Regions from separate parts of the Homo sapiens genome. Here all the other regions are linked to region 1. Evidence: fine-mapped expression QTL. A gene starts in region 1. Each other region holds a variant in brackets. All regions are shown on one strand. Distances are from middle to middle.

Region 1 (4,115 bases):
GTGGGTCTTCCCCGGGTGCCTGAAAACGCGAAGACAGAAGGCGTCCATCTTATCAGAGGTGAGGAAGGCGGCCTTGGTTTGACACAAAGCCATCGGTTTGTCTGAGACCTGGCCGCATGGATGGCAAGGAAAGGGCAGCTCCTCGGGGGCGGTCGCCGCGCCTGCACCCGGGGCCGCAGCTGGCGCGCATCTGTAGCCCGGCCGGGCCCGCACCTCCGCGGCTGGCAGGGCGCGGGCGCCAACTAGCGGCGGCTCCCGCCACTGTGCCTGCCAGGCGGCCCCGCGACCTTGGTCTGGGGACCCAAGGGCCTGCACCCGCCCCCCCTCCCCCCGCCGCCCTGGTCCCTTGGATCTGGTGCCCACGGGGAGCCAGCGCCCTACGGAGAGCCGGAGCCGTGCCGGGCCCTGCGCCAGGTGCCAGGGCCCACAAGAGTCCCTCATTCTCTGGAAACTTGTCTGTGAACCCATCGTAAGCGGAGAGGGAGAAATCAGGCGGAGGAACAAGCAAAGGGCACGGTGCAAACCGAAACCATTCGACAAATGGAATTTACCACCACCTGAAACAGCGGGTCATGGTCCCGCAACCTGCTCGAGGGCAGCACGTGTTGCCCGCCCCCGGCCAGGGCCCTACCTGGCCACGACGCGCTGCGCCTTCTCGGAGACGTTCCCGGAGGTGGGAGCGCCCAGGCTGGATCACTCGCTTTCCTCTAGTTCTGCTGCTCGTGCCAGCGCGTCCGAGGGCGCGCGGGCCTGGGTCCGCAATCGACAACTGCCAGGCGCAGGCTCTCTTAAAAGGTTCAGTAAGGGACCTTTGCCGTCCTTCCTTTCGACACGGCCTGAGGGCGTGCTGTGAGGTCCCGAGGTGGGTAGGGGCCAGCTCTCCCGGTGGTCGGGGTGAGTCCAGAGTCCTTCGCCCCTGGAGCGCACGCGGGGCTTGATTTCGTTTGGCAACGACGAAATGGCGCGCGCTGAGCAGGGGTCAGATCCATGATGAGATCTTGCGGCCACCGTCGGATCCTAAGCTTCTTTGCTTCCGAGGCTTGGAATTCATTGTTTTGCACCTGTCGAGAGCCGGAGGCAACGAAAATCTAGCCCCGTCTCCAAAGCGGCGGGGAGGCTCAGCACGCGTTCGTTCCCCAGAGTCTAGGGAGGTGTCTGGGGCGATAATTCGGAATGATTGTGGCTTGATCTTTCCCGTTGCCCTCCCAACTGTAGCCGGCCCCTAGGTCTGCTCGACAGACTTAGGAGGCGGGAGAGGAAGGGGTGATTTGCAGTGAAGCCCAGGAGAGGTTGGGCCACGCGGCTGGGAGTGGGAGCGGGGACCCGGAGCCGGGCGGGCAGGCAGTGCCTTGGCGAAGCTGTCCGCGGTCCCTGCGGCGCAGCCGGAGCGCACGGGCCCAAGAAGAAGTGGGGTTGGACCCGCAGAGGCCACTTTCCACCCGCATGGAGAAAGAAAATTCTCTCCTCTGAAAGCGAGGGCCCTTAGCTTTGCAGCCACTGCTGTTTTTCTTTTGCCACCGACGCGCGTACCGTTTCACGATGCAGGACCGTGGTTACATGCGTAAAGGAAAAAAAGAAAAACGCATTTTGCAGGCCTCGTCGTGTTTTTCAAAGAGCCACAGGCCGCCACAACGAAGAACGACGCCGCGAGGCCTGCAAGATCCTGAAACTTGTTTTGAGGGGAGAGCAGAGAGGAAAGGGGTTGTTGGCCCCAGGCTACTTAGGGTCCCTAGGAGACTCCCTTCCGCCTGTCCCCGGTTTGGCACAGGGGCCACCGAGGCTGGGACCAAAGCCGCGCAGGGCTGGGAGCAGCAAAGGCCGCCGGCCGGGCGTGGACGACGCGCAAAATCCCGTGTGGGGTGGAGGCTCTTGGGTCAGAATAATGTGCGGGACGAGGGAGGTGAGTAACCTCTTTGGGGCGGCTCCCAGTGCGGCGTCACCGGCCCTGAGACCCCGCGGCCCCCAGCCCGGGGTTGCAGAAGTCACAGGCCCGAAGCAGCAAGAGCTGGGGAAGCCCGGCCGCGGCCAGCGGGGAGGAGGAGCGAAGGGGTTGCGCCCCAGCGTCAGGGAGCTACGACCCGAGAGAGGGCGGCAAGGGCGCCTTCCGTGGGACCCGGACGTTCTAAGCAAATTTCTAGCATTTGCCCCGGGCTCCCAGAGCTCTCGGGGGCCCTGGGCTGTGGCACTGGGGCCTCCTCCGCGGGGTGGCGCCTTCCGCCCCTCCCCGTTGGGCGGCCTCCGGCAGGCCCCGTTCCTCCCCGCGAACGCCACCGAGGTGCCCGCGATGGGGGCTCCGCCGATTGGCTGTGCGACGCGTCGCTCCGCCAGCCCCGCCCCGCGGGCCCCGGGGGTACTAACCCCGCGCGGGCGGCCGCGGCCCCGCCACTTGATTCTGGAGGATTTGTTCTGGGGCTGCGGCCGCGGAGTCGGGGCGGCCGCGGGCGAGCTTCGGGGCGGGAGGCGGCGGCAGCGGCACAGCCCCGCGCGGGCCCCGCCGCGGCCCAGGCAGCCGGGACAGCCACGAGGGGCGGCCGCACGCGGGGCCGCGCGCCGAGGATGCGGGACTAGCCGGGCAGGCTGCGGGCGGCCGTCGGGCCAGCGAGGCCTCGCAGCGGGCGGGCCCTGGCGAGTAGTGGCCGGGCGCCGCCCCCTGCGCCCTGAGGCCCGGGCCCCGCCGCTTCTGCTTTCCCGCTTCTCGCGGCAGCGGCGGCCGAGGAGGCGCCCGCGCCGGCCGCCCCCGGGGGAAGCCGCGCCGTCTCCGCCTGCCCGGCGCCCTGACGGCCGCTGTTATGCGTATTCCCGTAGACCCAAGCACCAGCCGCCGCTTCACACCTCCCTCCCCGGCCTTCCCCTGCGGCGGCGGCGGCGGCAAGATGGGCGAGAACAGCGGCGCGCTGAGCGCGCAGGCGGCCGTGGGGCCCGGAGGGCGCGCCCGGCCCGAGGTGCGCTCGATGGTGGACGTGCTGGCGGACCACGCAGGCGAGCTCGTGCGCACCGACAGCCCCAACTTCCTCTGCTCCGTGCTGCCCTCGCACTGGCGCTGCAACAAGACGCTGCCCGTCGCCTTCAAGGTGAGTGCGGGACCCGGGGCGGGAGGGCGCCGGCCCTGGGGCTCCGGGCGTCTGAGCTGCGGGAGCCAGAGCCTCGGGAGCAGTGGGGATGGGAGGTGCCCGAGACGCCGCGGCGACACCCGGGCACCCGGTTCAGTCTGGCTGCGCGCTCGGCTCCGGGACCTCGGCGTTCCGTTTTGGATGCGCCCTGCAGGAATGACTTTTAACGGGGTTGCCCCGCTCCACCTGGGTTTTGGGGCGCCTTGCGTAGAGACGTTGGTGCGGAAATGGGCGGATGGGGTTTTGCGCCCCCCTAACCCGGATCGCTCAGATACAGCCCTGCGGGTAACGGAGAAGAGGATCCCGGGACAGGGGCAAGGACACCGCGGGTGGGGTGCGAACGGTGAAAGGGCCTACCCTCCGCCTCCAGCACCCCTCCTCCCGCGCCGCTTCGCAAAAGCTTCCTGCTCACACCCTCGGGCTTCCGAAATTTTACCGGACGGCGCTAGGCCGGGATCGGGGCACTGCTCTCCAGACGTTTGCTCGGGGATATTATGCGTCCCGAATGGCGAGTTGAGATTGGGGGACCCCTAACCCTGGCAGCCCCCAGCCATTTAGAGGACCTTTTTCTTTATGCCAGGGAGTAGGCGACTGTTTCATTTTCATTTTTTTAAGGGGGCAGCGAGATGAAACGAAAACGCCTCGGTTTTCCCCTAAACCTCTCACAGCTGCCGTGAGAAAAGGGCAGGGCAGGAAGGGCCGGCGGCTGGGGGTGGTGCTGCCCGAGGTGGCTGGAAGCTGAGGCCGTCCCTGCTCCCATTAAGACGACTCTAAATGGGAAAAAAAGGAAGAGTGGCTCTTTGAGGTCTCCCGGGTGACATCTTAAAATACCAGTGGGGGAAATCTCGCCGGGAGGGGCGGGAGGCCCGTGTGACTTTAATCGTCAGATCGGAGGTTTTACTGTCACTTGGAGCTTAAAAGGAGTCTTTGAAATTAAAAGAAGACAGGATGTTGACAGGAAATCTGGTCTTCTTAATCAGATCCCAAACATTTTCTCCTTGAAAT
Region 2 (4,115 bases), 73 kb after region 1:
TCATGCCACTGCGCTCCAGCCTGGGTGTTAGAGCAAAACTAAAAAAATATTATGGGCCAGGCACATTGGTTCACGTCTGTAATCTCAGCACTTTGGGAGGCTGAGGCAGGAGGATTGCTTGAGCCCCGGAGTTCAAGGCCAGCCTGGGCAACATGGTGAAACCTCATCTCTATAAATAAATAAATAAATAAATAAATAAATAAATAAATATGTGTGTGTGTGTGTGTGTGTATTAATTAAAATTAGCTGGGCAGCCGGCATTATGGCGTGCACCTGAGGTCCCATCAAGTTGGGAGGCTGAAGTGGGAGAATCACCTAATCCTAGGAAGTCAAGGCTGCAGTGAGCCGAGATTGTGCCACTTCACCCCAGCCTGGGTGACACAATGTTGAATTAGTGAAATGTCAAAATGTTTACAGCTTACTTTGAAATGTTTTGGAATAGACAGATAAAACAAATACAGCAAGTGTCAGCAGCTATTACATCTGGTTGGTGGCTGCGTGGATACTTGTATGGAGATTTGTTAGATGACTCCTGCACCTTTTCTGTATGTTTGAAAATTTTCATAATGAAAATGTCTACATAATTTCAGGTGAGAAATAGCCTCCAGGGTCACCTCAGTTCTCTTGTTCCCTCCCGACCCTGCACTTCTGTCTTTACCTCCAAGAGGAATGCCCCTGGGCACACCCCTGTCTCCTTTGGGTGTGGGGGCAGGGGTCCTCGCAGGGTGACACATTAGAGCCACTCAGAAGGGTGGGCCATTCACTGCCTCTGATTGTGCCTCCTGGAGCAGGTGACGTTGTCCTGCTCATGTCCCCCTCATCTCCTCAACCTCAGGGATACTCCTTTTGGAGTGTGAAGCTCTACAGAAAGATGTTCCTTGCTTATTTTGTATAATTAAAAAAAGGAGAAAAAGTAGACAAGTCCAACTGTCTGTCCATCAATAGGAAATTGGTGGCAAAATTTCACAGCTATGTGTTAGTACATCCCGACATGCAGGTATGTCCGTGATACTGTGAAGAAAATAGCAACTTGCAAACACTCTGTATGATGTGATGGTTTAAAAAGAAAACATGGGCCAGGTGTGGTGGCTCGTGCCTGTAATCCCAGCACTTTGGGAGGCCAAGGTGGGAGGATCACCTGAGCCTAGGAGGTGGAGGTTGCAGTGAGCCATGATCGCACCACTGTGCTCCAACCTGGGTGACAGAGCAAGATCCTGTCTCAAAAAACAAACAAACAAACAAACAAAAACCTAAAGAAAAGTAAAAAGAAAACACTATATGCATAATCATGATGTATTTCTAAAGAATGATCTGGAAGGTGGCCTAGGGAAGGAACTGTTCACAGTGGTTTCTTCTGGAGAGTGAGATTAAGTGGGGCAGGAGAAACTTTCACTTTTCATGTCAAACATGCCTCCATTTTTGGAATCTCTTTACAATTCTAATAGCACACATCTCAGAGCACTTATTACATTTCAGGCACTGTAATGATATCTAGTACTCACATAGCACCTACTATGTGCCAAGCACTGTTCTAAGGGCTTCACACATATTAACTCATTGAATCTGCACACAATTTATTTGATGTTATGATCATCTTTCCCAGGTTAAAGATAAGGGATGGCCGGGCATGCTGGCTCACTCCTGTAATCCCATTGCTTTGGGAGGATCATTTGAGACCAGGAGTTGGAGACCAACTTGGACAACATATTGAGATCCCGTATCTACAAAATATTTGAAAATTAGCCAGTTGTGGTAGCACTCACCTGTAGTCCCAGCTACTTGGGAGGCTGAGGTGGGAGGATCGATTGAGCCCAGGAGGTCAAGGCTGCTGTGAGCCATGATGGGGCCACTGTACTCCAGCCTGGGCAATAGAGCAAGACCTTGTCTCAAAAAAAAAAAAAAAAAAAAAAGAAAGAAAGAAAGAAAAAATAAAAGGAAAGGAAAGGAAAAAAAAAAAAAGAAAAAACTGAGGCACAGAGTAGTTGAGTAACTTGCTCAAGGTCACACAGCCAGGGATTTAAACCTGGACAGTCCCTCTCTACTGATAGTGCCATTACAACTCTATTCTGTTGCCTCAGAGGCCTTGTTTCATTGGATCCTCACAACAGCTCCCCCAGCAGGTCCTTGCCTCACTCAAGTACTCAAAGAGCAGCTGAGGAGGCTGACAAGACACAGTTCAGGGGCGAAGGCAATTGAAGGCTGGCGTGAGGTTTGTCCTCTTCTCTTCTTAGCAGAAGGAGAGGACCCCAGAGAAATAAACACCTACACATGCATGAGGTCCCACCAGCAGCAAAGCACCTTCTCTTCCACGGACGCCTCTCATGACACACAGTGTTAGACCTGGAAGTCAAGGGGCCCAGCTGCTCACTTAACAGATAAGGACACTGAAGCCCAGAAACAAGAAATGGCCAAAGTCCGGATGAGTTTGGGATGGCCACT[C/A]CCTAAGGCCAGGGACTTGCCGGGGAAAGGGGGCAAATGCAGGGCAGAACTGTCCCCCTCAAGGCTCCTGGTCTTACCTTCTGCAGGTGGCGAGGACTGAGTCTTGAAGTCCTATCTGTCTCCACACATGCAGCAAAAGTGGCCCGTTTGGGGACCCCTGTCCAGCACTCACTCTACCCCTCGCTGGGGCCTGGACAGAGGTGTCACACTGCCCCGGAGCCACCCCATAGAATTCTGAGAATAAGAAGTGGTCCGACACCCAGGAGGAGACACACCCAAATGTTCACAGTCACAGATCTGGGGTGTGAAATTGCGGGTGATTTTTATTTCCTTCTTTGTACTTTCCAAATTTTTCAGCGGTGAACGTGCATCGCTATTATAATTAGAAAAAAAAAAAACAGATTGGACTTTTTTTTCTTCAGGAGAAACCAAGGACATATCACAGGAAGTATTTCAGCCAGTAAGTGTCAAATGTGCGAACCAAGAAGGGGAAATGGGAGAGGCAGAGAGGTGGAAAACCAGCATTTGCTGGGCGCCTGCACTGCAGGAACTGTGGTGCCGGGAAGGCGGCATCGCGGCCTCTTCAATCCTCCCAGCTACCCTGGGAGGTTGGTGCTGTGATCTCTGTTTACCAATGGGGATACTGAGGCACAAGAAGGAAAGCAGCTTGCCCAAGTTCACCCAGCCAGCACATGGTAGAGCTAAAATTTGAACCAGACTGTCTTCTTACAAGGCCGCTGTCCTCTCCACCTCCCCATGCTGCCTTTCCAAGAGGTGGTAGAAAACGCAATTTCAAAACCAGTTTGGGCCGGGCACGGTGGCTCATGCCTATAATCCCAGCCCTCTGGGAGGCCGAGGCGGGAGGATCACTTGAGGTCAGGAGTTTGAGACCAGCCTGGCCAACATGGTGAAACCCCATCTCTACTGAAAATATAAAAATTAGCCAGGCGTGGTGGCAGGTGCCTGTAATCCCAGCTACTCAGGAGACTGAGGCAGGAGAATCGCTTGAACATGGGAGGCAGAGGTTGCAGTGAGCTAAGATCACACCACTGCACTCTAGCCTGGGTGACAGAGCAAGACTCCATCTCAGAAAGCAAACAAACAATCAAACAAAAAAACAGTTTGGTTTAAAACCATCCAGCAGAGGACCTGTTATCCAGGGCCTCCCAGAAAAGAGCCTCCAGTCTTCACTATGGAAGGTCTCCTCCAGGCAGCATGGTATTGAAGCCCAGAACAGTGCCTGGTGCTTATTATTTGCCATTATTTTGATGACAGAGCGTCATTTTCATGTTCTGGCACCCTGCTCTGTCTGGCGGCATTAAGGTCTAATGTAGATGGAGCTGAAGTGGACTTGGTCTACCATTGGCTTGCTAGTAGCACTGAAAATTGGTACAATCCGAAGAAATAGCCACAAATGGGTTGAGATCTTTTGACTCACGAGTTCCATTCCCAGGGACAGATTTCTAAGAACTACTTCAGAAACAAGAAGCTGTGTGCACAAGTATGTTCGTATCAGTATTAACTACAAAATTTACTCATCTACTACAAAATCAACTCATTAAATTTGCAAAAAATTTACAATGCAACACTGTGAGGGGAGATGCTATAAAACGTGATCTTTTACAATAGATGGTGGTCACCAGCCTCTAAAGGCCCCCCAAAATCCTTGCCTCCTG
Region 3 (4,115 bases), 30 kb after region 1:
CCCATTCTCCGACCCCCGCCAGTTTGACCGCTCCTTCCCCACGCTGCCAACCCTCACGGAGAGCCGCTTCCCAGACCCCAGGATGCATTATCCCGGGGCCATGTCAGCTGCCTTCCCCTACAGCGCCACGCCCTCGGGCACGAGCATCAGCAGCCTCAGCGTGGCGGGCATGCCGGCCACCAGCCGCTTCCACCATACCTACCTCCCGCCACCCTACCCGGGGGCCCCGCAGAACCAGAGCGGGCCCTTCCAGGCCAACCCGTCCCCCTACCACCTCTACTACGGGACATCCTCTGGCTCCTACCAGTTCTCCATGGTGGCCGGCAGCAGCAGTGGGGGCGACCGCTCACCTACCCGCATGCTGGCCTCTTGCACCAGCAGCGCTGCCTCTGTCGCCGCCGGCAACCTCATGAACCCCAGCCTGGGCGGCCAGAGTGATGGCGTGGAGGCCGACGGCAGCCACAGCAACTCACCCACGGCCCTGAGCACGCCAGGCCGCATGGATGAGGCCGTGTGGCGGCCCTACTGACCGCCCTGGTGGACTCCTCCCGCTGGAGGCGGGGACCCTAACAACCTTCAAGACCAGTGATGGGCCGGCTCCGAGGCTCCGGGCGGGAATGGGACCTGCGCTCCAGGGTGGTCTCGGTCCCAGGGTGGTCCCAGCTGGTGGGAGCCTCTGGCTGCATCTGTGCAGCCACATCCTTGTACAGAGGCATAGGTTACCACCCCCACCCCGGCCCGGGATACTGCCCCCGGCCCAGATCCTGGCCGTCTCATCCCATACTTCTGTGGGGAATCAGCCTCCTGCCACCCCCCCGGAAGGACCTCACTGTCTCCAGCTATGCCCAGTGCTGCATGGGACCCATGTCTCCTGGGACAGAGGCCATCTCTCTTCCAGAGAGAGGCAGCATTGGCCCACAGGATAAGCCTCAGGCCCTGGGAAACCTCCCGACCCCTGCACCTTCGTTGGAGCCCCTGCATCCCCTGGGTCCAGCCCCCTCTGCATTTACACAGATTTGAGTCAGAACTGGAAAGTGTCCCCCACCCCCACCACCCTCGAGCGGGGTTCCCCTCATTGTACAGATGGGGCAGGACCCAGCACGCTGCTGGCAGAGATGGTTTGAGAACACATCCAAGCCAGTCCCCCCAGCCCAGCTTCCCCTCCGTTCCTAACTGTTGGCTTTCCCCCAGCCGCACGGGTCCCAGGCCCCAGAGAAGATGAGTCTATGGCATCAGGTTCTTAAACCCAGGAAAGCACCTACAGACCGGCTCCTCCATGCACTTTACCAGCTCAACGCATCCACTCTCTGTTCTCTTGGCAGGGCGGGGGAGGGGGGATAGGAGGTCCCCTTTCCCCTAGGTGGTCTCATAATTCCATTTGTGGAGAGAACAGGAGGGCCAGATAGATAGGTCCTAGCAGAAGGCATTGAGGTGAGGGATCATTTTGGGTCAGACATCAATGTCCCTGTCCCCCCTGGGTCCAGCCAAGCTGTGCCCCATCCCCCAAGCCTCCTGGGAGGATCCAGCCAAATCTTGCGACTCCTGGCACACACCTGTCTGTAACCTGTTTTGTGCTCTGAAAGCAAATAGTCCTGAGCAAAAA[A/C]AAAAAAAAAACAAAAAAACAAAAAAAAAACAAAACAGTTTTTAAAACTGATTTTAGAAAAAGAAGCTTAATCTAACGTTTTCAAACACAAGGTCTCTTACAGGTATAGTTCCGTGATTATGATAGCTCTGTGATTATAAGCAACATCCCCGCCCCCTCTCCCCCCCGCGGACCCCCAGCTGCCTCCTGAGGGTGTGGGGTTATTAGGGTCTCAATACTTTCTCAAGGGGCTACACTCCCCATCAGGCAGCATCCCACCAGCCTGCACCACAGGCTCCCCTGGGAGGACGAGGGAAACGCTGATGAGACGCTGGGCATCTCTCCTCTGTGGCTCTAGGACATCTGTCCAGGAGGCTGGGCGGAGGTGGGCAGGATGTGAGAGGTGGGGAGTACTGGCTGTGCGTGGCAGGACAGAAGCACTGTAAAGGGCTCTCCAGCCGCAGCTCAGCTGCACTGCGTTCCGAGGTGAAGTCTTGCCCCTGAATTTTGCAAAATGGGAAAGTGGGCGCTTGCCCAAGGGCCAGGCTGCATGGATTCTCACATCAGAGTTCTCTGGCCCTAGAAAGGCTTAGAAAAGGCGTAAGGGAACTCATAAAGGCTAGCAGCATGCGGTATTTTAACTTTCTGCCTCGGCCTCTGTGGATGCAGAAATCTGCCCTACAAAATGCTCTTCATTGGTTGTCTCTGTGAGAGCACTGTCCCCACCCAACCTGTCACAACGGCCAGAACCATACACCAGAGACACACTGGCAGGTTAGGCAGTCCTTCTGGTGATCCTATTCCATTCCCTCCTGCTGCGGTTTCTCTTGGCCTGTCCTCACTGGAAAAACAGTCTCCATCTCCTCAAAATAGTTGCTGACTCCCTGCACCCAAGGGGCCTCTCCATGCCTTCTTAGGAAGCAGCTATGAATCCATTGTCCTTGTAGTTTCTTCCCTCCTGTTCTCTGGTTATAGCTGGTCCCAGGTCAGCGTGGGAGGCACCTTTGGGTTCCCAGTGCCCAGCACTTTGTAGTCTCATCCCAGATTACTAACCCTTCCTGATCCTGGAGAGGCAGGGATAGTAAATAAATTGCTCTTCCTACCCCATCCCCCATCCCCTGACAAAAAGTGACGGCAGCCGTACTGAGTCTGTAAGGCCCAAAGTGGGTACAGACAGCCTGGGCTGGTAAAAGTAGGTCCTTATTTACAAGGCTGCGTTAAAGTTGTACTAGGCAAACACACTGATGTAGGAAGCACGAGGAAAGGAAGACGTTTTGATATAGTGTTACTGTGAGCCTGTCAGTAGTGGGTACCAATCTTTTGTGACATATTGTCATGCTGAGGTGTGACACCTGCTGCACTCATCTGATGTAAAACCATCCCAGAGCTGGCGAGAGGATGGAGCTGGGTGGAAACTGCTTTGCACTATCGTTTGCTTGGTGTTTGTTTTTAACGCACAACTTGCTTGTACAGTAAACTGTCTTCTGTACTATTTAACTGTAAAATGGAATTTTGACTGATTTGTTACAATAATATAACTCTGAGATGTGTGGAAGGAGTCCAGTGCCCGGTTTCTAGGGCTATGCATGGAGGTGGGGTGGGGTGGGGGAGAGGATGGAGACCTCCTGCTGTTGCCCAGGAGGAACAGGAACAGAGACACCCAGCACCTTCATCTCCTTGCTTCCAACTTCTTCAGGAATGGCCGCAGAGACCACCCTGGCCACAGGACAGCCGGTGAGGCCTGCTCCTGTATGGCTGGGACCCCAGGAGAGCATCAAATAGGTCTTCAAAGTGCCACAACCCTTCCACCAATCATGAGCGGGCTGTGAGTCTTCCCAGCCGTGTTGGGAGGAATTCCTATGCCTGTTCCTCAGATTCACATTTCGGGAGGGGGCAGAGGCAGAGGGAGAGTCCAAGTGCCTTGGTGAGAACCCCCCTCTGAGGCTCGTGTTTCAAGATCTGTGGCAAGCTAGCAGCAGTGGGGATTGGGAGTAAGCGGCAACTTCAGTGCCCCCATTTTGCAGATGAGACAACTGCGGTGCAAAGAAGGAGTGTCATCAAGGTCCATGTCTCCCTGGGGTTGTCCATGGCTGAACTGGGACCACAGCCCAACAATGGTAGCATGGGTGTGATGGTGTGGGGACCTGGCTTGACAGCCCCCCTCCCACCTTGCCAGCAAGGAGGCCTGGTCCACTTGGGATTTGTACCAACACACAGCCCAGAGCCTGGCCAGTTGGGATTTGTGAAGGGAAATTTTTACAAAACAGACCTTATTTTTGAGTGATGCCCACCGACTTCAAAAACCACTCCCAAAGCTTTGCCCTGCTCAGTTTGGTTGGTCTGCCTGAAACTCAGCTCCCAACAAGAAGCTTCCATTTCCCTAGCCCGGCATCCCCTTTTACCCAAAAGACAGCAGGTCCATCTCTGGACAGGACCTCAGCCGTGGCTACAGAACTTCTCTGTTGGTCTGCTCTGGGCAGCCTCTGCCAGGGTTGGTCCTGAAACGGCATCTACATGGCCAAAACTGTTTCTA
Region 4 (4,110 bases), 23 kb after region 1:
CTGTTCAAGAGAGTTCCATGAGAAGCCTACTTTGCGTTTTCCATTCATGGAAGATGAAAAATGTCTGGAAAGAAACTGGTCACGGTGGGGACTCTGGAGAGGAGCTTAGAGCGGTGGACAGAGCCTTATCTGTAATGCTTTTATTTTTGTAAATATTCACGTGTTGCTTGTGAAATGTAAAATTAGTAATTAAAAAAGTGTGTGTGGCGGGGGAGGTCCCTGCAAGCTTGATATCACTCCAGAAGTGTCCCTCGGCCTCAGCAGGCCGCAGGAGGGTGGGAGCCTGGCCACCTTGACCCTCCCAGCACCTCTGAGTCCTCGGATGTGAGGCTGGGATTCTTCCTGTGTGGGCTCTGGCAGATAGGGAGTGGAAAATGCTGGCAGTTTTCTCCAGGTGTGACATCTCGTCCCCTGACCCCAGCTTCCAGGCAGAGATGGCTGTCTAGTCCCTCATGCAAGCCCCCTACACCTCTGCCCAGCATCCTGGTGGAGTTATTTTTCTGCCTGAGGCCCAGAGAGAAGAAGGCATGTTCTGGGGATCCCAGAGTGACTTAGGGCTGGAAAAGCCTGCAGTCCCCTCCTGGGGCCACCTCCCATTGTTCTTGTAGACATGGGAGACAGTGTGCAAGGCAGGCTGGGATGCTGGGAGGCAGAGGGTGGCAGTGCTCCTGGGTTATCTCCCTGCCTCCCTTGGGGGCATGAGCCACTTTCTCATGTCTGTTGCCTCAGTTTCCTTTTTTTAGATCTAGGGTCCTTGTTCCGTTGCCCAGACTGGGATGCAGTGGTACAATCAGCTCACTGCAGCCTCCACCTCCTGGGCTCAAGTGATCCTCCTGCCTCAGTCATCCCAGTAGCTGGGACTACAGGCTTGTGCCACCCCACCTGGCTAAGTTTTTCTTTTTTCTTTTTTTTTTTTAATTTTTGTACAGACAGGGGTCTCGATAGTTGCCCAGGCTGATCTCAAACTCCTGGGTTCAACTGATCCTCCCATCTCAGTCTCCCAAAGTGCTGAGATTATAGGCGTAAGCCACTGCACCTGGCCCTCAGTTTCCTCTTCTGCCAAACAGTGTGTTGTAGAGGTTTGGATCACCGTGTGTCGTAGAGGTTTGGATCACCACATGTCGTAGAGGTTTGGATCACCGCGTGTCGTAGAGGTTCAGATCACCGCGTGTCATAGAGGTTCAGATCACCGCGTGTCGTAGAGGTTCGGATCACCGCGTGTCGTAGAGCTTCGGATCACCGCGTGTCGTAGAGGTTCGGATCACCGCGTGTCATAGAGGTTTGGATCACCGCGTGTCGTAGAGGTTCGGATCACCGCGTGTCGTAGAGGTTCGGATCACCGTGTGTCGTAGAGGTTCGGATCACCGCGTGTGGTTGAGGTTCGGATCACCGCGTGTTGTAGAGGTTTAGATCACCGCGTGTTGTAGAGGTTTAGATCACCGCGTGTGGTTGAGGTTTAGATCACCGCGTGTTGTAGAGGTTTACATCACAGTGTGTTGTAGAGGTTTAGATCACCGCGTGTTGTAGAGGTTTACATCACAGTGTGTTGTAGAGGTTTAGATCACCGTGTGTTGTAGAGGTTTAGATCACCGTGTGTTGTAGAGGTTTGGATCACCGTGTGTTGTAGAGGTTTAGATCACCGCGTGTTGTAGAGGTTTACATCACAGTGTGTTGTAGAGGTTTAGATCACCGCGTGTTGTAGAGGTTTAGATCACCGCGTGTTGTAGAGGTTTAGATCACC[G/A]CGTGTTGTAGAGGTTTGGATCACCGTGTGTTGTAGAGGTTTAGATATGTGGGGTGGCACATAACGACCATTCTCTGTTCAGAAAGTCTTTTGAAAACCTCTGTGAAGAGGCTGGCGGTGACCTCAGGGTTCTCCCAGCAGAGGCCTAAGGTCAGACCTCAGGAAGAACTTCCCAGCAGAGTGAGGCATTTCTGTCTCCACTGAGACTCTGGGGAAGCAACGGCTGATGGGCTTCCTGTGCTCTGCAGGGCACCGGCAGAAGCTGGAGGACCAGACCAAGCCGTTCCCTGACCGCTTTGGGGACCTGGAACGGCTGCGCATGCGGGTGACACCGAGCACACCCAGCCCCCGAGGCTCACTCAGCACCACAAGCCACTTCAGCAGCCAGCCCCAGACCCCAATCCAAGGTACGGCACGGAGGGAGGGGCTGCAGCGGGGTGAGGTGGGGGTGGAGGGCCTCGATGTGGTCCAATCTGCCCCAGACCAAAAGCCTGTCCGAAGATCAGTCACTGCACCCCCTTGTTTTGTAGAGGAGCTGCTGGTGCTCATTGGCACCTGCAGACGGTTCCTGTGGGCTTTCTGTGTGCTAGCCATCATTCGTTCACTCAGCAAACACTGACATTACTGACACATGCCTGGTGCCTGGCCCCAGGGATCTGCATACCAGGAGTTCACTGTGCCTGGGGAAATGGGGTTAACCCCATAGTGCCCCTATTAAAATTGGGGCATGACTTGTCCAAGGAGCCGTGACAGACTCGCCCCTGCCATGTACAGTTTCCCCACCCCTGCCCCACAGCCTGCGATTTTTCATCTGAAAGTGGATTGGGGCGGATGCCTCCACCCAGGGCTGGGATGACATTCAAATGACATTACTGTACTCACACAAACTTTGCACACTGTTAAGTGACATTCCAACCCTAGAGAGGCACATAGCATTCCTGGGAAAGGTCTCCCACCCTGCCCAGAGCATCCTCCCAAACAGGAGGAGCTGAGGTGGAAGGGAAGACCGAGCTGGGGTCTCCATCTCCACTGCCTAGACGGATACAGCAAGCACAGTTGCAGCCAGGCCTCAGGCAGGTCTTCTGGAGTATCGAGGTGCCTGGCGCATAGTAGCCGCTCACTAAACGGCTGCCGGCTGCATCTCTCCTCTGTTCTCTCAGTCAGTGAGCTGGGGACATGGGAGGCTGTGTGCACAGCCGGCCCTTGGGCTAAGTGGGGTGCCAAGGGTGCTTGGTGGCCGGGTGGACAGAGGCAGGCAGCTGGCTGCCGTCACGGACTGTGCCCATTCTTTCTCAATTCCCCAGAGCCTGGTTAGAACCCCTTGGCAGATGAATGAATTGAGAGGCCTAAGAGGTTCAGAGCCACCCTCGGGTCACACAGCCCATCTGTGACCAGGTCCACAGTCTCCACAGTACCTGCTCCCAAGAACTTTCTGTACTTCTGAGGGGACAGATAAAGGGGCCTGGAACAGGGCTGCCAACCGGTCTGCCTGCCCCACCCCCTTTTCCGGTGCCACGCTGAGGTGGGGGCCGACTGGGTCTCTCTACTGACATTGTTCCAGGCATAGTGCTGCAGCCAGGGGCTGGATGCAGGCCTTCAGTGTGAAGAGAGGACCCCTCCCCTTCTGGCCTGGGCTCAGGACTTTTGGCCTTGGTCCTGCTGAGACGCCAAGGTTGGGAGAAGCCCCAGGCCCAGCCTCTCTGAGCCCAGGAGCTAGTGCATTTGAGACTCTCAGCTCTCGAGCCCAGGAGTTGGAGGTCTGCTCTCAAGAGGTAGCGGAAGGAGCCCTGCACGCTGTGCTCACGCCCACCCCTGCCGCGTAGCTGCCTCTGCTTCTGCTACCCATGGGCCAGCATCTGTCGAGGTGCAGTAGCCTGAGAGCCAGCCTTTCTCTGCCATGGACAGAGCCAGGCCAGGGGATCGGGGCTCAGCGGGGGAGCCAGAATCCAGGAGGTGGGGTGAACAGTGGCTTCCTGTCCACCAGCCCCCATGGAAGGAGAGCCCACATCTGCCCATCCACTGCTGGGTGGGCACAGCTTGGGAATCAATGCCTGGCCCCACGGCAGGCACAGCTGCTGCTTCCATCCTGGGCTGGGAGGAAAGGAGCCCAGCCTGTGTGGGGCAGTGGCTGACTTCTGCTTCTCTGCCTGCTCCCTCCTGAGGCCTGGCCCAGTCCCTCGCTAGCCCCCCACAGCACTGGGCCACAGGCAGCCAGGCATCTCCATCCTCAGGCCCATCCCCTTTGGGTGAGAGAAAGGGCCTCGGATGACCAGGACAGGGCGAGCATGAACTCTGCAGTCAGCTGGACCAGGCTAGGAATTCAGGCTCTGCCAGGCATTGGCTGTATGATCTTAGACAAGTCACTTAAA
Region 5 (4,115 bases), 180 kb after region 1:
AAATTCCAGCCCATAAAACTGAACTCCGCAAAGGGATTACTTTCTGTTTTTTGATTTGATTGTTTTTGAGACAGAGTCTTGCTCTTGTCCCTCAGGCTGGAGTGCAATGGCACAATCTCGGCTCACTGCAATCTCCGCTTCCCGGGTTCAAGTGATTCTCCTGCCTCAGACTCCCGAGTAGCCGGGATTACAGGCGCCCGCCACCACGACCGGCTAATTTTTGTATTTTTAGTAGAGACGGGGTTTCGCCATGTTGGCCAAGCTGGATGGAGAAACCCCATCTCTATTACTCTCATTTGTGGTTCAAGAGTTAATATTTAGTTTTACCCAAACAAAAATCTTGGTTCCCCAAATTCTGGACATAGCCAAGAAGAAACACTAGTAAATATATAAAAGACTGGCACGGTGGCTCACGCCTGTAATCCCAGCACTTTGGGAGGCCGAGCGGGTGGATCACTAGGTCAGGAGTTCAAGACCAGCCTGGCCAACATAGTGAAACCCCGTCTCTACTACAAATACAAATTAGCTCCTCATCTCTACTAAAAATACAAAAAATTAGCTGGCCATGGTGGCGGGTGCCTGTAACCCCAGCTACTCGGGAGTCTGCGGCAGGAGAATCGCTTGAACTCGGGAGACAGAGGTTGCAGTGAGCCAAGATCGTGCCACTGCACTCCAGCCCGGGTAACAGTGCAAGACTCCATCTCAAAAAAAAAAAAAAAAAAAAGACTGGAAGTATTAAATGGAGAAAAAAAAGAGGTGAGTACATAAAATTACACTGGGTTTGGAGACTGGAGGCTAGAGAAATCAGGATGAAGAACCATGCTTTGATGCTCCAACCATCGGGATCTCAGTAAGTGGTTTCTAATTCCAAAGCATGGTAGAGACATACATTGACAACAAAATGCTCAACAACAGAATTCTCTGAAAGAAGGGCACAATCTCATTTCAAACATTTGGCATCCTCTTAAGTTGCAGGCACTCTGAACCATATGCACACCCTATCCTCAAGGAATTTACTGTCTATCTAGTAGGGGAGATCTGCCTATAAATATATATTCATACAAAATTATACACAACTAGCATTTATTTGCTTACTGTGTACTAGACATTGTTCTAAGATTGTTGCATACTACATATATTAATTTATCCCATAGGACTGTTCTACTAATATCCCAACTGTGCAGATGTGGCACAGACAGGTTTAAGTGATGTATCCTGGGATACACAATTAGTAACTGGACATATTGGATTAGAAACTCAGGCAGTAGGCCAGGCTCGGTGGCTCACGCCTGTAATCCCAGCACTTTTGGAGGCCAAGGCAGGCTGATCACCTGAGGTCAGGAGTTCGAGACAAGCCTGACCAACATGGAGAAACCTTGTCTCTACTAAAAATACAAAATTAGCCAGGTGTGGTGGTGCACACCTGTAGTCCCAGCCACTCGGGAGGCTGAGGGGTAACAAGAGCGAAACTCCGTCTTAAAAAAAAAAAAAAAAAGAAAGAAAGAAAGAAAGAAAGAAACCCAGATTACAAGGGACCTTATGCCCTTGCTAAAAGGTCTCAAATATACCGTATCTGTTGGTGGTTCCCAGCTGGAAATATATACACCTACCAGGCTCCTGAGTGGGGTAGAGAGCATCTCCACTGTTGAGGATGATTGCCATTATAAGCCTTTGTTGTTTTCCTCCCGAGACAGGGTCTTGTTCTGTCACCCAGATTGGAGTGCAGGTACATGATCATAAGCTCACTGCAGCCTCGAACTCCTGGGCTCAAACAATCCTCCCACCCGCAGCCTCTAGGGCTAGGGCTGCAGGCGTGGGCCACCAGGCCCAGCTTAGTTACTTACTTATTTATTTAGAGATAGGGTCTCACCCAAGCTGGAGTGCAGTGGCACGATCACGGCTCACAGCCAACCTCTGCCTCCCAGGCTAAAGGAATCCTCCCACCTCAGCTGGGACCACAGGCATGTATCACCACACCCAGCTAATTTTTTATATTTTTTGTAGAGATGGGGTTTTGCTACGTTGCCCAGGCTGGTCTCGAACTCCTAGGCTCAAGAGATCCGCCTGCCTCAGCCTCCCAAAGTACTGGGATTACAGGCGTGAGCCACTGTGCCTGGCAATTTTTTTAATAGTTTTTGTAGAGACAGGGTCTCGCCATGTTGCCCAGGCTGGTCTAGAACTCCTGCGCTCAAAAGATTCATCCTCCTTGGCCTCCTACAGTGCTAGGATTACAGGCGTGAGCCACCACAGCCCAGCTGCCTTTTTTACTTTTGAGAGGGCATCCTATCTATCCTCCAGATGTTGAGGGTAAAACAAAACAAAAACAAACCAAAAAAACCATCCTGCTGTTATATAGATGACAG[G/A]GAGTTAATGGGCTCACAGGCAGACAACTCCAAAAACTACTCACAAGGAAGGAAATGCAGCTGTGAGTTCAGTCATACTATTTGAGAAGGTGCTCATCTCTCTCTCTTAAATGTGAAGCTCAGTGCTAGCTAGACAGGTAGGCTCAAAGCCCCATTACATCTCTTGGCCTTTCCCCTAGCGCCACCACCAAATTTCTAATTTCCATACATGCTATGTGCTTCAACTGTAAATAGTTTTCTTTTACAAACTCAGATACCTCTTGGCAGGTTAACACTGTTCAACATACCACTCTGGACAACCACAGCCTCTGCACCCTCTCTACTTTCTTTTTTTTTTTTTTAATTTTTATTTTTTGAGATGGAGTCTTGCTCTGTCACCCAGGCTGGGGTGCAGTGGCACTATCTCGGCTCACTGCAACCACCGCCTCCCAGGTTCAAGCAATTCTCCTGCCTCAGTCTCCCGAGTAGCTGGGATTACAGCCATGCACCACTATGCGTGGCTAATTTTTGTATTTTTAGTAGAAATGCGGTTTCGCCATGTTGCCCAGGCTGGTCTCAACATCAAGTGATCCACCCCCCTCCGCCTCCCAAAAGGCTGGGATTACAGGAGTGTGCCACCACACCTGGTCCACTGCTTTCAAAATAACTATATTTACAAGGGTATTTCCCCCATTTGCATTTCCCACACGTAGGTTTTGAGAAGAGATCAAGAATGCCCTTTACCACATTTTACCTGTCCTTTTTTCCCCTTTCAAACAAACTGGTCTAGGGGCCAAGCACAGAGGCTCAAGCCTGTAATCCCAGCACTTTGGGAGGCCAAGGCAGGCAGATCACTTAAGGTCAGGAGTTTGAGACCAGCCTGGCCAACATGGTAAAACCCAGTCTCTTCTAAAATACAAAAATCAGCCAGGCGTAGTGGTGCATGCGCTCCTCGGAAGGCAAAGGCAGAAGAATCACTTCAACCTGGGAGGCAGAGGGTGCAGTGAGCCGAGATCGCGCCACTGCACTCCAGCAGCCAGGGTGACAGAGCGAGACACCATCTCATTAAAAAAAAAAAAAAAAAAAAAAACAAAAAACCTGATCTGTATCAGTGCAAAGTTTGCCTATGTTGAATCACTGGGTAGCAGAAAACATTTCTTATTTCACAAATGAGACAAACAAGGCTTAAAGAGTGAAAACAAACTGCCTAGGGTCACCCAACCAAGGAGTAAAGAACTGTGACTTGAACCCTGATTCTCTGCCACCAAGCCCAATGAGAAAGGCTTACAACTAGTGGTAGGAAGGATGATTTTCAGTGGTTCTCAACACAAATATGAAAAACAGAAAGGGGATGCAAGTGACTCAAGTTTGGAAAACTGCACACGCCCCTCTGCTATTCTAACTGAAAGATGAAATTAATAGTAAGCAGGGCATTAATCACTGATCTCTTCCTAATTCAGATACTTAATTTTTCTTGTCTTCTTTGATTAGCTCCTCCAATAGAATAATAGAATACTGAATAGAGCCATAACTGATAATAGCTTTATCTTTTTTTTTTTTTTTTTGAGACGAAGTCTCACTCTGTCGCCCAGGCTGGAGTGCAGTGACTTGATCTTGGCTCACTCCAACCTTTGCCTCCCCGGTTCAAGCGATTCTCATGCCTCAGCCTCCCGAATAGCTGGGCCCACCACCATGCCTGGCTAATTTTTCTATTTTTAGTAGAGACAGGGTTTCACCATGTTGGCCAGGCTGGTCTCGAACTCCTGGCCTCAA

Direction of the effects. Positions count from the first base shown, and alleles are read on the strand shown. Sizes are in standard deviations (SD) of each study's normalised expression. Not every link is listed here.
With allele G in place of A in region 4, the expression in testis of the gene that starts at base 2,382 in region 1 is lower (moderate effect, 0.59 SD a copy in GTEx).

Evidence for each region. PIP is the estimated chance that this variant, and not a neighbour inherited with it, causes the effect.
Region 2: its variant is fine-mapped to the expression of RUNX3 in whole blood (TOPMed, PIP above 0.99).
Region 3: its variant is fine-mapped to the expression of RUNX3 in whole blood (INTERVAL, PIP above 0.99).
Region 4: its variant is fine-mapped to the expression of RUNX3 in testis (GTEx, PIP above 0.99).
Region 5: its variant is fine-mapped to the expression of RUNX3 in whole blood (TOPMed, PIP above 0.99).

What each region holds. Positions count from the first base shown.
Region 1 is chr1:24,928,543-24,932,657 of GRCh38, reverse strand. It overlaps RUNX3 (RUNX family transcription factor 3), which reads left to right and starts at 2,382. Exons shown (of 5, transcript NM_004350.3): 1 at 2,382-3,071. The coding sequence starts at 2,790. It overlaps RUNX3-AS1 (RUNX3 antisense RNA 1), which reads right to left and starts at 2,201. Exons shown (of 4, transcript NR_183341.1): 1 at 632-2,201. RefSeq lists silencers at 144-363, 2,034-2,503, 2,704-3,143 and enhancers at 679-1,268, 2,708-3,441, 3,614-3,793, 3,442-4,115.
Region 2 is chr1:24,855,868-24,859,982 of GRCh38, reverse strand. LOC105376876 (a long non-coding RNA gene) reads right to left here and starts at 2,901. Exons shown (of 3, transcript XR_947082.3): 1 at 2,517-2,901. The variant C/A (reference allele first, on the strand shown) is at 2,440.
Region 3 is chr1:24,898,536-24,902,650 of GRCh38, reverse strand. RUNX3 (RUNX family transcription factor 3) reads left to right here. Exons shown (of 5, transcript NM_004350.3): 5 at 1-3,140. The coding sequence ends at 529. Among named protein-coding and RNA genes, the nearest start is that of MIR6731, 19 kb to the left of the region's middle. RefSeq lists enhancers at 254-323, 404-473, 804-1,253, 2,021-2,070. The variant A/C (reference allele first, on the strand shown) is at 1,604.
Region 4 is chr1:24,905,297-24,909,406 of GRCh38, reverse strand. It overlaps RUNX3 (RUNX family transcription factor 3), which reads left to right. Exons shown (of 5, transcript NM_004350.3): 4 at 1,990-2,148. Among named protein-coding and RNA genes, the nearest start is that of MIR6731, 12 kb to the left of the region's middle. The variant G/A (reference allele first, on the strand shown) is at 1,742.
Region 5 is chr1:24,747,817-24,751,931 of GRCh38, reverse strand. The region is part of intron 1 of CLIC4 (chloride intracellular channel 4); the gene reads right to left. Among named protein-coding and RNA genes, the nearest start is that of CLIC4, 4.4 kb to the right of the region's middle. RefSeq lists a silencer at 2,373-2,452. The variant G/A (reference allele first, on the strand shown) is at 2,364.